Regions from separate parts of the Homo sapiens genome. Here region 1 is linked to region 2. The links come from fine-mapping of genetic effects on gene expression. Tissue or cell type: whole blood. Region 2 holds a variant in brackets; the other region holds the start of a gene. All regions are shown on one strand. Distances are from middle to middle.

Region 1 (2,619 bases), 22 kb before region 2:
TCTCTCTCTCTCTCCCTTCTTCCTTTGAACCCAGACTTCCTGGGTTCAAGTCCTTACTAACTATAAAACTTATAGTAAGCTATTTAACCCCTCTCCACCTCAGTTTTCTCATTTATAGAATGGGGATGATAAAAGATATCTCATAAAACTATTGTAAGATCAAATGAGTGAATATGTTAAAGTGTCAGAAGATGGACTAGCACTCTGTAAGCTTTCATCGAATATTAGCTAAAACTACACATTCTGCCAGCCTCAAGTTTTCCTGCCAAGTCCCCTTAATGTTACAGCCTAAGTAAACAAATGACCTGAAGCCCGAAACACAAACCATAGCATGGCCAGCTATTACGCTACTGACAAGAAGAAGGAGGAGAAAAAGACAGTTTCCCAAGTCAGGATATAGGGAATCATGCCATTCTCCAGCCTACCTTTTCAACTCAGTCACCTCTACGCTGTCACATACGATGTCCACCCCCATTGCAGTCTCCCTGATGCCTTTGTCCATATTAAAAGTCCTTCATTGCATGTGACAGAAAGCTAGCACAAACTGCCTTGAGCAAAATAGAAAATGTATTGGGTCACTGTATTAGTTATCTGTTGCTGTGTAACAAATTGCCCCAAACTTCACAGCTAAAAACAATAAGCATTTTTGATGAAAAATAAAAAATTGAAAAAAAATTTAAAAACCAAACATTTATTATCTCACAGTTTCTCTTGATAAGGAATCTGGGCATGGCTTAGCTGGGTGCCTCTGGCTTAAGGTACTCACACAACTAACATCACGGTGTCAGCCAGGGCTGCAGTCATTTCAAGGACCTCCTGGGGAGGATCCACTTCCAGTCTCACTCATGTGATTCTTGGCTAGCCTCAGTCCTCATGGACAGTTGGCCAGAGGAATCAGCTCCTCGCCGATTGTTGGCTGGGGGCCTCCCTCTGTTCTTTGTTTTGGAACCCTCTCCCTAAAGTATCTCACAAAACAATACCTGGCTCCCCTCAGTGTAAGGTAGGGAGACAGAGATAGTGGGAAAGACAGAGAGGGAGAGAGGGCAAGAGAAAGAGAGAGCGCATATGCACACACATGCTAACCCAAGATGGAAGTCACAGCTTTTTTGTAACCTAATCTCAGAAGTGACCCATCCCACATCTCTGCCACATTCTATTCACTTGAAGCAAGTCACTAAATCCAGGCCACACTAAAGAAGAGGTGATTACACAGAGGCATGAATGCCAGGAGGTACAGATCTTTAGCAGTCACCTTTAGGAGCCAAATTTAGAACCCAAGTCCCTTGATGTCAAAGCAAGTGATGCTCCACATCAGTCACAAATGAGGCCCTGAATAGACTTGGGACCTCTACCTGCCTGCGCAGATGGGAGGAGTCTGTGGTGTTTTGTATAAACAACCCTCCCTCTGAGACACACACACATACACATACACATGCACACACACACTCATATACACATGCAGAAGCTGTGACACGTGCGGAAGCTGTGGTAAGTGCATCCTCCTTCAGTCTCAGTTCTGAAAATAGATCATCATGGTGGCACCAAAGAGTCACACAGATGACTGGGCTCCTGGGCCTTTCTCCAGTAAGCCACAGAGGAGTCAGCTGCAAATATTCTCTTCTGTTCTACAGACCTCTCTCCTCTTCCTGCTCATGGGTAAGTCCACTTTATGGCCACCACTTCTTGCTACTGCGGTTCTTCTGAGGCCAGTTGCATTCCCTGCCTGGGAGATTCTTTTTTTTGTTTTTTGTTTTTTTTAACGGAGTCTCACTCTGTTGCCAGGCTGGAGTGAAGTGGCGCAATCTCGGCTCACTGCAACCTCCACCTCCTGGGTTCAAGCGATTCTCCTACCTCAGCCTCTTGAGTAGCTGGGATTACAGGTGCATGCCAACACACCCAGCTAATCTTTGTATTTTTAGTAGGGGCAGGGTTTCACTATGTTGGCCACGGTGGTCTCGATCTCTTGACCTCGTGATCTGCCCAGCTCAGCCACCTGAAGTGCTGGGATTACAGGCGTGAGCCCAGTTCTTGTTGGTAAAATCGGGAAACTCATCTCCTTGCCAGAAATTACTTTGCATGTGTGCATATTCGTGCACTATGAAGGGGGTAACATTCTAGCCCCGGTCTCAAATAGCTCTGGGCTCAAACTACATTTCTCTTGCCCTCACATTTTCCTAAGAAATGCCAAGTATATAATGAGTTTGTTCCCTGTATGGTGTGGATAAAACCCACAGAGGGATCCAGGAAAATCCCCTGATGAGAAGCCACCTAGCAATTTCCTAGGGATGGAGAGAACTTCTGGAGCTTCTTTCTATGTATCCTGCCTTGGTTATCATATATGCTGGCTTTATTACTGAGGTTTCACTGGGGACCTGGACGCGGTTAGGTGACCATGGGCAAGGTGGCGTTTATCTGGATATCCTTTTCTCCTCAACCTTATTCCTCCCTATCAAGGCCCAACTCCTGGGAAACATCTCTCCGCTGCATGGCCCGGAACCCCACTGTCCAGCAGATAGAGCCAATCCAGTACCCCAGAGAGGATCTCAGCCACCTGGGACTGTGGCAGCTACTGTCCTTCTGTGCTCCCGCTTTCTCCAGGGCTTCAGGGATGATGGTGCA
Region 2 (2,764 bases):
GGGGCCTCCAAGAGTTTGCATCCTGACTGATTCTTTATGAAGTGCAGTAAGAGGCTGTGGGTGAGAGCCCTTTAGAGTGGCATGCTTCCACAGATATATGAGAGTCACGCATGTGATTTTAATGTTCTAATAGCCACGTTAGAAAAAGCAAGAAGAAATAAAGTTATTTTAATAATATGTTTTATTTAACTGAATATATCCAAAATATCATTATTCAACGTGTATTCAATACAAAAAAATTCATTAGACACTACATTTTATTTTGTACTAAGTCTTTGAGAGCCAGTATGTATTTTACACTTAGAGCACGTCTCGATTCCGATGCTAAATTTTCACTGAAAGTGTTTAATCTATATTCAGACTTCGTAAAATTTACAGTTGAAAAAATAGATTTATGCACCCAAGTTATTCCAAGCATATTTATCAGTTTTTCAAGAAGGAATTGAGTAGCCATTTTTAAATTTAAACTAAAACTAAATAAAAGAAGCAATTTGGTGTCTCAGTAATACTAGCCACACTTCAAGGGCTTATGCATAGCTTGTGGCTACCATATTGAACAGCACAGAGTTACAGGCTTGTGGAGAAAAGCCAATAGGAAGCTGATATGGAAAGGGATGTGGACCACACAGGAACAAAGGCTGCGTGAGTGGGAGCTAGAAAAGAAGCCCCAGTGGCCCTTAATAAATGCTAAGTACTATTCTAGGCCTTCAGGCATTTTTGCACAATCTTCGCAACAATCCTACAGAGTAGATATTCTCGTTTTTCCCCTTTATATGGATAAAGAAACTGAGGCTCAGAAAAGATAAGGGACTTATCCAAGGTCACACCATAAAAGCTGGTTTCGAACCCTGAGCTCTATCTTCTGCTCTTCCGTAGAAGGAAGCAGAAAAAAGGTACGGTCTACCCAGGATCTGACAATGTTGGGTCAGATTGTGTCTGGCAGACAGATCTAGAGTCCAGCTTAACAGGAATCTGGAACTCCCCTCATATCATTTACAGCGGGGCAGTGTAATGTGGCGATTAAGGGCGCTGTAGGATCTGCACTCGAACCTCAGGTCAGACACTTGAAACACTGTGACACTGGGCAAGCCGTAAACCTCTCTACCCAGGGACTGTCTGCCTCAGGTACTGCTATAACCTCTTGCCTAGAGTAATGCTTGCTCGAAAAATGGTTGTAGAATGAATGAAAAGAAAGACTTTCCACAACGTCATGGATTTTAAGGGGCAGGTAGGATGGCCATCATGTTCTGTGCATTGTTTGCTCCAGTGTGTCTTGTCATTATTTGAATTAACATCACTCATTTCCTCCTCAAAGGACCTGAGAGAAACACAAAGCTTTGGATTGGGTTGTTCCTGATGGTTTGCCTTCTGTGCGTTGGGATCTTCAGCTGGTGCATTTGGAAG[C/T]GAAAAGGACGGTGTGAGTTTCCGAGATCAATGTTGTCCGCCAGTGCTAGGCCATTTCCCTGGGACTTGTGGAGGCTTCTCTGCCCTCACACAATCCCGTGCTACCCCTCCCTGCCAGCATCTTATTTCTTCTCAGAGCAATGGGGGAGGGGTGTCAGTTGGGACTCTTTACTCACAAATAATAGAAGCCCAGTTCAAACTGGCTTAGACAGAAAAAAAAAGGCATGTGGGAGCAGGGAGAGTGATTTATTATTTTTTCACTTAAATAATCAATCTGTGGGGAAGGCAGGGATAGAGCTGGCATAATGGAGAAATGTCACCAGAGGCTCAAAAGTCATCAGAGCTCTCCACCTTTCATCTCTACTGTGTATTTTGAGTCAGCTTAACTCTTCCTACTGCAGCCCGCTGAGGGAAGGGGTGGGAGCGAGGGGAGGAGTGTACCACAACACAACAGCTGGCAGCTCCAGACCCACACATACTAACAGCTCCGACACCAGACAGGGAAGAAAATGTGCTTCCCTCTAACTCCAATTTAAAGAATGTCAGAAATAGCTCTGATTGGCCCAAGTTAAGGTCATGTGGCTGCTGCTTGGACCAATTTCTATAGCCAAGAAGATACACTATTATGATTGGCAGCTCCTCTAGAATCCCAGTATTGGAGTGGAAATGAAGTAGTAGCCAAAAAGAGCAGAATGGGTAGAACACATGGGGTCCCTGGAAGAATTACTGAATTGCAGGCAAACTACTCTGATCAGTGGCTATGGCAGAGGAGCTCTCTCTTCTGGAGGGATGGCAGGAAGCTCCAGAGCCTCCACCTCTGCAGAAAGTAGCCCTAGACTCTGGCCACCCCTTCACATAGGCCTGGCTTCTCATCAGGGTTCATCCTCCTTCCTGAAGCCTTTTCCCTGTCTATGTCCCAGAAGTCTCTCCCCTTCTCATTTGACTCTCACAGAATAAAAGACACCTCTCACCTCACAGCCCTCTTGATAAACCTTCTCTAACTTTGTTTCTCAGGTTCAGTCCCAGCCTTCTGTTCCAGCCAAGCTGAGGCCCCAGCGGATACACCAGGTAACATCACCCATGACACAGGCTATGGGGTATCTGGTCCAAATGGAAGTTCTAAAGTCTTGCTGCTCAAAGTGTGGTCTGCTGGCCAGCAGTGTGGGCATCACCCAGGAAACTTGTTAGAAATGCAAAATCTGACCAGGTGCCGTGGCTCACACCTGTAATCCCAGCACTTCGGGAGGCTGAGGCAGGTAGATCACTTGAGGCCAGGAGTTCAAGACCAGCCTGGCCAACAAAGTGAAACCCTGTCTCTACTAAAAATAGAAAAAATTATCTGGGCATGGTGGTGCACGCC

What was found. PIP is the estimated chance that this variant, and not a neighbour inherited with it, causes the effect.
Region 1: it holds the start of LY9, and the variant in region 2 is fine-mapped to the expression of LY9 in whole blood (TOPMed, PIP above 0.99).

The regions. Positions count from the first base shown.
Region 1 is chr1:160,794,656-160,797,274 of GRCh38, forward strand. LY9 (lymphocyte antigen 9) reads left to right here and starts at 1,519. Exons shown (of 10, transcript NM_002348.4): 1 at 1,519-1,656. The coding sequence starts at 1,533.
Region 2 is chr1:160,816,903-160,819,666 of GRCh38, forward strand. LY9 (lymphocyte antigen 9) reads left to right here. Exons shown (of 10, transcript NM_002348.4): 6 at 1,316-1,417; 7 at 2,419-2,472. Among named protein-coding and RNA genes, the nearest start is that of LY9, 22 kb to the left of the region's middle. The variant C/T (reference allele first, on the strand shown) is at 1,405.